Linked DNA regions of Homo sapiens: region 1 is linked to region 2. Evidence: fine-mapped expression QTL. A gene starts in region 2. The other region holds a variant in brackets. All regions are shown on one strand. Distances are between the middles of the regions.

What was found.
Region 1: its variant is fine-mapped to the expression of FAM30A in whole blood (INTERVAL, PIP 0.95).

The regions. Positions count from the first base shown.
Region 1 is chr14:105,924,352-105,929,558 of GRCh38, reverse strand. FAM30A (family with sequence similarity 30 member A) reads right to left here. Exons shown (of 6, transcript NR_026800.2): 6 at 1-5,207. It also overlaps IGH. Among named protein-coding and RNA genes, the nearest start is that of FAM30A, 9.0 kb to the right of the region's middle. The variant G/T (reference allele first, on the strand shown) is at 2,844.
Region 2 is chr14:105,914,925-105,920,131 of GRCh38, reverse strand. It overlaps FAM30A (family with sequence similarity 30 member A), which reads right to left and starts at 2,153. Exons shown (of 6, transcript NR_026800.2): 1 at 1,315-2,153. It also overlaps IGH, IGHD2-2 and IGHD1-1.

The DNA.
Region 1 (5,207 bases), 9.4 kb before region 2:
CCAGCACACCCAGTGGGGAAGGCGGGGAGGCCCAAACGCCACCCACAGTTTGTTACTCCACTGGGTGGGACCCGGCACCCCTGCCTTCCTGACACCCTGGAGTCCCTGCCTCTTCCTAGAGCCCCCAAGCCCATCTGCCTCAGAGCATCCAGAGACAGACCTGGGGAGCCATTTCCTCAGGCCCTGGACAAGGAAACAGGGAATTCCAGGTTATGGGTGCCTGGGGCAGGTCTCAGGCAGGTGCTGGGAACCAGAGAGAGGGGTCACCGCGAGGCCTCAGGCCTGGCACCAGCACTTTGAGCCTCAGTTTACCAGCCCACGAGGTGCTGAGTCTGGACTGGATGACCTTCCCACCCCCAGTGACCTCTGCCCTTTCCCGAGCATGTCAGCTCTGCTCCAGCATCCTGGTGTGAGCGCAATGCCACTTTTTTTCTCAACAAATACGAAAGGAGGAAGGTGCCCCCAGGGCCCTGTGCCCTGAGGATGCCTGTGTGGAGGGGTCCATTTCATCACTGGTGTCACTCACAGGAAGGGACGAAGCCACCTGCCTTGACGGAGCTTACTCCACCTCCGCCGAAGGCCGGGGAGGTCCCTCACAGAGAACCTGAGGCCCAGCAGGCTGCAGAGGTGCTGGCATGGAATGACTGCTCAGACGCCCGGGGCCGGCAGAGAGGACGGATGTGGGGGAGGTGCACACTGAGGAGCCTCTCCTTGGAGGTGGAGACACGTGCACCACATGGACCAGGACACAGTCCACGAAGCCTCGCATCCCCCTGAGCTGCAGCTCAAGGGCCTCTCTCTGAGCCCAGAGTCCCACCCCTGGGAGGCAGCTGCCCCAGCTCTGAGGGAGGAGGGCATCCACCAGGCCCTCCATCTCCTGGGGGCACCAGCCCAGCCCAGAGGCTCTGCAGGACTCTGCACCTCCAATTCATGGCCAGGACTTTCTGGATGTATCTTAAGGACTGAGGACTCCACATCAGGGACCACACAAGACCGGGGTCCCGGACACGGGGGTTGGGGGTGAGCATGTCACCGGGATGGGCTGTGGCGTCACTCTGGTACTTCATCCGGACAGCCAGGGACCAAAGCCACGCCCTCAGCCCCACCCCACCCCTGCCTCACATGGCAACGCAGGGTCTGCAGATGCAGGAGAGTGAGAAGCATGGTAGCCAGGCAGACTAGAGGACCCGAGCTGGGGTTGAGCACCTCCCTGTCTACCCAGGGCATGGCCTGTGAGACTGCAGGTGGCCTAGTGTGTGCTGCAGGCTCAAGGTCCTGCCCCAGGGAGCATGACATTCAGGCCCAGAAATTGCATCGTGCTGCACACAGTCCAAGGGGATAACCCTGTGAAGTTCAGGTCACCAGCAGGCTTGGGGTCAAGACCGAGCTGCAGAGGACAGGTTTCTGGAAGGCACAGCATCATGGGTGGAGGGACTTGGAGCAAGGTCCTTAGCCCCGGGACCAGTGAATGTGTGCCCTTATAGGGAAAGGGGGTCTTTGCAGAAGCAAGTTAGCTGAAAATCATGAAGTGGAGAGGCTCCCCTGGATTAAAGGGGTGAGCCCTAATGTAATCACAAGTGTCCTTCTAGGAGGTTGGCAGAGGGAGACTGACATAGACAGAAGCCAGGTGAGGTGGGAAGCGGAGGCAGAGGCCGAGAGAGCAGACGCTACGCCCTGGCCCTGAAGACGGAGGAGGAGCCGAGAGCTCAGGGATGGAGAGACTGGAGGAGGCAGGGAAGTTCTCCCCGCAAGCCTGGAGGGAGCATGGCCTCCAGCACCCCCAGACCTTGGCCCTGCAGGATTCATCTGGACCTGTGGTATAAATGGTGTTTAAGCCACTGGGCTGTGCAAATTGTCATAGCAGCCATGGCGCATTCCTAGAGGGAGCCCTGGTGGGGACCCAGCAGGCAGCGACGGGGCCCTCACAAGCCTGTGAGCCACTCAGAGCCGCGAGAGTGGCTAGGCTTGGTGAGGTGCAGGCCACGCGCACCTCCACTAAGGCAGCCTTAGGGCCCACACTTCCTCTCTCTCTCTCTCTCTCTCTCTCTCTATCTCTCTCCCTCCCTCCTTCCCTCCCTCCCGCTCTCTTGGTTGGACAGCTCTCCATCATCCCCCTGGACACGACCACCTCCCAAGGCCGAGCTGGGGCGCTTTGCTCGAGGTGAGCACTGACATCCTGGGGGTGTGAGGGGCACCTGCCCAGCGGCCCCGTGTGCAGGATGGGCGGTGGGCCCTAGCTGGCACTGGGCATATGGCCCGGCTGGTGCCTGCAGGCTGCAGCTTTTCTGGGGTGGCTGGGATCAGTGAAGGCCTCCAGAGTCTGGGCCTGGGATCCCTGCAGTGCTGGCTGAGGACAGGCGGGGCTGGGCAGTGAGGGCACTGGGTCACTATCACCACCCACGGTTTATTACTTCACTAGGTGGGACCTGGCACCCCTGCCTTCCTGACACCCTGGAATCCCTGCCTCCTCCTACAGCCCCCAAGCCCATCTCCCTCAGAGCCTCCAGAGACAGACCTGGGGAGGCATTTCTTCTGCCCCCAGCAGAAGCCCGGGAGGCCGGGAAGGCACAGTGGGTCTAAAGGAGAGGATCCCAGGACTGCCTGAGGGGTGACTCCGACGAGGCAAGCATAGAGCCCACTGAGAAGCGGGGTGGGAGCCCCACCAGGGATGGGCTAGTTCCTCATGAAGGACCAGGACCCAGGAAGGACAAGGGGGCCTGCTGGGGCAGGGTCTGCTATGCCGGAGTCCCTGTGAGCCTGGCCCAGACCTGCCTCTCTCTTTCCTCATTGGTCCCCACAGGTCCGTGGTGGTTGCCGTATCGGGAGGCCCCATGGTGGCAGGG[G/T]TGGGACACCTGGTATACGTCGCCAGGTGTGTCCAATAGGCTCATGCTCACACCTTCTCCTGGCACCTGGGCAAAGCCTGAGCACCCAGGCACTGAAGTGAGGGCAAGGCCTCGGGGCCCCACAGGATGGCCGAGGAGACAGCTGCAGGGCGCCTGGGACCCCTGGGCTCAGGAGGTAGAAGGATACAGCCTGAAAACCCACACCACAAGCTCACCGGCCAGTGCAGGCCCACAGAGCTCGAGGAGGCAGCCCTGAGCCTCCCAGGGAGAGATGCTCTGTGCACGCCGGCACAGGCCCTGGGTTACAAACCCTAGGCACAGCCCAGGAGAGGCCCAGGCCCCAGTCCAGCAAGGGGTTGCAGGAAGCAAGAGGTCCCCGGCCACAGCATGAGATAAGCCCATCAAGCCAGGGCCAGGTGGGCAATGGGAGGCAGGCAGGGCTTGGGGGTGAGTCCCTGCTGCAGCGCCGTCCACTGTCGACCGGAGGAGTTTCTTCCCTGTGCGGAGTCCACGGGCCTCCTGTGAGTGTGTGCATGGGCACAAGTGTGTGTGTGGCTCTGCTGTGTGTCTGTACACACGTATGTTTTGGGTTTTTTTGTGTCTCAGACCACAGAGTCTGCCCCTCCCACCAAAGCCCAGGCAGAAGGATGAACCCACGCCCCTGGGGCCCAGGCCTCAGCAGCCTCTGCAGGATCATTGTTCCCAGTTGTCACTTGCCTTTGCCACAGCCCTATTTCTCCACAATTCCTTAAAGTCCTCAACATGCATTTAAGGCACAAAGGTGAAACTGCCCAGAAACATCTGACTCCGCCGTGGAACCCAGGAGCAAGCTGGGTTAGCTAAGGAGCGGGGCCGTTGGCAGAGGCTGGGGATCCAGGCTGAACTTTGGAGGAGGCATGTGCCAGCATGGGCTCCTGACTATGTCCTCCTGGGACAAACCCAAACCCACTCTTTGAATATGGGAGGGACTTTGCTGGCCCCGGCCCTGACCGCAGCACTTGGAAACTGAGGAGTGGTCGCCTCCTCCGTGTCACAGCTGCCCGTTCACCATCATAGAAGCAACTCTGTCACCTCCATGGGCCCCTCTGTGGCTGCTGCCTGGGTCCAAGCTGAGCCCAGCTGCCCAGGCCCAGAAGGAAAGCCCAGGCCAGGTGCCCAGCACAGAGGCAGTCACATACCCCGGGGAGAGCCACAGCAAGCAGCCAATGTTGCCCAGGAGAGGAGTAGCTGACAAGGTAGAACGTGAGCTGCCATCGGCTCGAGAGGCTTTGCTGGTCCTCCTGGGGCTCTGGACATGACCAGGAGGAGCGAGGGAAGAAGTCGCATGGTGGTCCCATCCTGGGTGGGGCCTGATGGCAGCTGGCCACCCGTCCCAGAGTGGCAGCCAGATGCCAGCGCCATTCCCACAGTCACATCATTGGTCACAGAATGCAGGACATAGAGTGTCTTCTTTCCATCACAGTGCTGTCCAGACCCATAGCCTAGGGTAGACCTGGAAGATTCAATGTCCACACCCGGGGCTGGAGCGTAGCCATGAGCCACGCCCCCTGCCCGTGCATGGAAAGCCAGCCCAAGCTCTGCTCCATCCCTAGCCAAAGTCAGTGTCCTTTCCCCTTCTCCCAAGTGAGCTCTAGCCACCTGCCTACCCTGCCATCTGAGGATGACAGCCTTCATTCCATTGGAACCTGGCTCTGCCACCAGCAGGCTTGCAGTCCTGGGCAGACTCCGTCACCTCTCTATGCCTCAGCCTTTCCATCTGCACAGGAGGAAGATGATGATGGTGGTGATGATGATGGCGATGGTTTCCTTTTGCATCTGAGGCAAGGACTAATTGAGATGATACACATCAGGCACTGGGTATGGTGCTGGTCCTTCCTGAGCACTCAATCTATGTGAGCTGTCCTTGTGAAATGGGTGTCACCACATTTCCCCACGCAGAACATCCTTTGTCTGCCATACTTGAAACGTCTGCCCCAATACTAACAGCTCCTCATGGAAGATGTGCACACCCACCCACCCTCATACTCCCAAAGGTGCCCGTGCTTTATCAAGCCAAAGTCCAGCCAGGAACTTTACAGCAGCATCCCTTTCCCTCTCCAAGCACCAAGGAGCAAGGCAAAGCACTACATCTTCCATCTGGAGGCAATGCCACCCTCTTCTCCCATTTTCACTGCCATCCCTAAGAGGCAGTGCTTCCCCAAAAGGTTCCATAGCAGCCTGCCTACAGCAACTCTGTTCACACGAGTTTCAGCATCCTTGCAGTGGCTCCCCTGCCATGCTGTGGCTCTTCATTCACCCTCTTCTCCTGCTCCCCGTGACAGGCATAGATTCTGAGTGATCTGGATACATTGCTTTGTTTAATAA
Region 2 (5,207 bases):
AACCCTCAGGAAGCAGGGCCCAGGCGCCGTTTAATAGGAGGCTTCCTCACAATGAAACTTTTAGAAAGCCTTGACTACAATGATGACCTTGGTGTGGCTGTGAACACTGTCAGCTCCCACAGCTGCTGCAGCAAAAAATGTCCATAGACAGGGTGGGGGCCCGGGGTCGTCTGCTGTCCTGCTCAGCCCACAGCACGCATGGAGGATCTGAGGTGCCACACCTGACGCCCAGGCCAGAACATGCCTCCCTCCAGGGTGACCTGCCATGTCCTGCATTGCTGGAGGGACAGGGGCAGCCTATGAGGATCTGGGGCCAGGAGATGAATCCTATTAACCCAGAGGAAAACTAACAGGACCCAAGCACCCTCCCCGTTGAAGCTGACCTGCCCAGAGGGGCCTGGGCCCACCCCACACACCGGGGCGGAATGTGTACAGGCCCCGGTCTCTGTGGGTGTTCCGCTAACTGGGGCTCCCAGTGCTCACCCCACAACTAAAGCGAGCCCCAGCCTCCAGAGCCCCCGAAGGAGATGCCGCCCACAAGCCCAGCCCCCATCCAGGAGGCCCCAGAGCTCAGGGCGCCGGGGCAGATTCTGAACAGCCCCGAGTCACGGTGGGTACAACTGGAACGACCACCGTGAGAAAAACTGTGTCCAAAACTCTCTCCTGGCCCCTGCTGGAGGCCGCGCCAGAGAGGGGAGCAGCCGCCCCGAACCTAGGTCCTGCTCAGCTCACACGACCCCCAGCAGCCAGAGCACAGTGGAGTCCCCACTGAACCCCACTGAATGGTGAGGACGGGGACCAGGGCTCCAGGGGGTCATGGAAGGGGCTGGACCCCATCCTACTGCTATGGTCCCAGTGCTCCTGGCCAGAACTGACCCTACCACCGACAAGAGTCCCTCAGGGAAACGGGGGTCACTGGCACCTCCCAGCATCAACCCCAGGCAGCACAGGCATAAACCCCACATCCAGAGCCGACTCCAGGAGCAGAGACACCCCAGTACCCTGGGGGACACCGACCCTGATGACTCCCCACTGGAATCCACCCCAGAGTCCACCAGGACCAAAGACCCCGCCCCGGTCTCTGTCCCTCACTCAGGACCTGCTGCGGGGCGGGCCATGAGACCAGACTCGGGCTTAGGGAACACCACTGTGGCCCCAACCTCGACCAGGCCACAGGCCCTTCCTTCCTGCCCTGCGGCAGCACAGACTTTGGGGTCTGTGCAGAGAGGAATCACAGAGGCCCCAGGCTGAGGTGGTGGGGGTGGAAGACCCCCAGGAGGTGGCCCACTTCCCTTCCTCCCAGCTGGAACCCACCATGACCTTCTTAAGATAGGGGTGTCATCCGAGGCAGGTCCTCCATGGAGCTCCCTTCAGGCTCCTCCCTGGTCCTCACTAGGCCTCAGTCCCGGCTGTGGGAATGCAGCCACCACAGGCACACCAGGCAGCCCAGACCCAGCCAGCCTGCAGTGCCCAAGCCCACATTCTGGAGCAGAGCAGGCTGTGTCTGGGAGAGTCTGGGCTCCCCACCGCCCCCCGCACACCCCACCCACCCCTGTCCAGGCCCTATGCAGGAGGGTCAGAGCCCCCCATGGGGTATGGACTTAGGGTCTCACTCACGCGGCTCCCCTCCTGGGTGAAGGGGTCTCATGCCCAGATCCCCACAGCAGAGCTGGTCAAAGGTGGAGGCAGTGGCCCCAGGGCCACCCTGACCTGGACCCTCAGGCTCCTCTAGCCCTGGCTGCCCTGCTGTCCCTGGGAGGCCTGGACTCCACCAGACCACAGGTCCAGGGCACCGCCCATAGGTGCTGCCCACACTCAGTTCACAGGAAGAAGATAAGCTCCAGACCCCCAAGACTGGGACCTGCCTTCCTGCCACCGCTTGTAGCTCCAGACCTCCGTGCCTCCCCCGACCACTTACACACGGGCCAGGGAGCTGTTCCACAAAGATCAACCCCAAACCGGGACCGCCTGGCACTCGGGCCGCTGCCACTTCCCTCTCCATTTGCTCCCAGCACCTCTGTGCTCCCTCCCTCCTCCCTCCTTCAGGGGAACAGCCTGTGCAGCCCCTCCCTGCACCCCACACCCTGGGGAGGCCCAACCCTGCCTCCAGCCCTTTCTCCCCCGCTGCTCTTCCTGCCCATCCAGACAACCCTGGGGTCCCATCCCTGCAGCCTACACCCTGGTCTCCACCCAGACCCCTGTCTCTCCCTCCAGACACCCCTCCCAGGCCAACCCTGCACATGCAGGCCCTCCCCTTTTCTGCTGCCAGAGCCTCAGTTTCTACCCTCTGTGCCTACCCCCTGCCTCCTCCTGCCCACAACTCGAGCTCTTCCTCTCCTGGGGCCCCTGAGCCATGGCACTGACCGTGCACTCCCACCCCCACACTGCCCATGCCCTCACCTTCCTCCTGGACACTCTGACCCTGCTCCCCTCTTGGACCCAGCCCTGGTATTTCCAGGACAAAGGCTCACCCAAGTCTTCCCCATGCAGGCCCTTGCCCTCACTGCCCGGTTACACGGCAGCCTCCTGTGCACAGAAGCAGGGAGCTCAGCCCTTCCACAGGCAGAAGGCACTGAAAGAAATCGGCCTCCAGCACCCTGATGCACGTCCGCCTGTGTCTCTCACTGCCCGCACCTGCAGGGAGGCTCGGCACTCCCTGTAAAGACGAGGGATCCAGGCAGCAACATCATGGGAGAATGCAGGGCTCCCAGACAGCCCAGCCCTCTCGCAGGCCTCTCCTGGGAAGAGACCTGCAGCCACCACTGAACAGCCACGGAGCCCGCTGGATAGTAACTGAGTCAGTGACCGACCTGGAGGGCAGGGGAGCAGTGAACCGGAGCCCAGACCATAGGGACAGAGACCAGCCGCTGACATCCCGAGCCCCTCACTGGCGGCCCCAGAACACCGCGTGGAAACAGAACAGACCCACATTCCCACCTGGAACAGGGCAGACACTGCTGAGCCCCCAGCACCAGCCCTGAGAAACACCAGGCAACGGCATCAGAGGGGGCTCCTGAGAAAGAAAGGAGGGGAGGTCTCCTTCACCAGCAAGTACTTCCCTTGACCAAAAACAGGGTCCACGCAACTCCCCCAGGACAAAGGAGGAGCCCCCTGTACAGCACTGGGCTCAGAGTCCTCTCCAACACACCCTGAGTTTCAGACAAAAACCCCCTGGAAATCATAGTATCAGCAGGAGAACTAGCCAGAGACAGCAAGAGGGGACTCAGTGACTCCCGCGGGGACAGGAGGATTTTGTGGGGGCTCGTGTCACTGTGAGGATATTGTAGTAGTACCAGCTGCTATGCCCACAGTGACACAGCCCCATTCCCAAAGCCCTGCTGTAAACGCTTCCACTTCTGGAGCTGAGGGGCTGGGGGGAGCGTCTGGGAAGTAGGGCCTAGGGGTGGCCATCAATGCCCAAAACGCACCAGACTCCCCCCCAGACATCACCCCACTGGCCAGTGAGCAGAGTAAACAGAAAATGAGAAGCAGCTGGGAAGCTTGCACAGGCCCCAAGGAAAGAGCTTTGGCGGGTGTGCAAGAGGGGATGCGGGCAGAGCCTGAGCAGGGCCTTTTGCTGTTTCTGCTTTCCTGTGCAGATAGTTCCATAAACTGGTGTTCAAGATCGATGGCTGGGAGTGAGCCCAGGAGGACAGTGTGGGAAGGGCACAGGGAAGGAGAAGCAGCCGCTATCCTACACTGTCATCTTTCAAGAGTTTGCCCTGTGCCCACAATGCTGCATCATGGGATGCTTAACAGCTGATGTAGACACAGCTAAAGAGAGAATCAGTGAAATGGATTTGCAGCACAGATCTGAATAAATTCTCCAGAATGTGGAGCCACACAGAAGCAAGCACAAGGAAAGTGCCTGATGCAAGGGCAAAGTACAGTGTGTACCTTCAGGCTGGGCACAGACACTCTGAAAAGCCTTGGCAGGAACTCCCTGCAACAAAGCAGAGCCCTGCAGGCAATGCCAGCTCCAGAGCCCTCCCTGAGAGCCTCATGGGCAAAGATGTGCAGAACATATGTTTGTCATAGCCCCAAACTGAGAATGAAGCAAACAGCCATCTGAAGGAAAACAGGCAAATAAACGATGGCAGGTTCATGAAATGCAAACCCAGACAGCCAGAAGGACAACAGTGAGGGTTACAGGTGACTCTGTGGTTGAGTTCATGACAATGCTGAGTAATTGGAGTAACAAAGGAAAGTCCAAAAAATACTTTCAATGTGATTTCTTCTAAATAAAATTTACAGCCGGCAAAATGAACTATCTTCTTAAGGGATAAACTTTCCACTAGGAAAACTATAAGGAAAATCAAGAAAAGGATGATCACATAAACACAGTGGTCGTTACTTCTACTGGGGAAGGAAGAGGGTATGAACTGAGACACACAGGGTTGGCAAGTCTCCTAACAAGAAGAGAACAAATACATTACAGTACCTTGAAAACAGCAGTTAAAATTCTAAATTGCAAGAAGAGGAAAATGCACACAGCTGTGTTTAGAAAATTCTCAGTCCAGCACTGTTCATAATAGCAAAGACATTAACCCAGGTTGGATAAATAAACGATGACACAGGCAATTGCACAATGATACAGACATACATTCAGTATATGAGACATTGATGATGTATCCCCAAAGAAATGACTTTAAAGAGAAAAGGCCTGATATGTGGTGGCACTCACCTCCCTGGGCATCCCCGGACAGGCTGCAGGCACACTGTGTGGCAGGGCAGGCTGGTACCTGCTGGCAGCTCCTGGGGCCTGATGTGGAGCAGGCACAGAGCCGTATCCCCCCGAGGACATATACCCCCAAGGACGGCACAGTTGGTACATTCCGGAGACAAGCAACTCAGCCACACTCCCAGGCCAGAGCCCGAGAGGGACGCCCATGCACAGGGAGGCAGAGCCCAGCTCCTCCACAGCCAGCAGCACCTGTGCAGGGGCCGCCATCTGGCAGGCACAGAGCATGGGCTGGGAGGAGGGGCAGGGACACCAGGCAGGGTTGGCACCAACTGAAAATTACAGAAGTCTCATACATCTACCTCAGCCTTGCCTGACCTGGGCCTCACCTGACCTGGACCTCACCTGGCCTGGACCTCACCTGGCCTAGACCTCACCTCTGGGCTTCACCTGAGCTCGGCCTCACCTGACTTGGACCTTGCCTGTCCTGAGCTCACATGATCTGGGCCTCACCTGACCTGGGTTT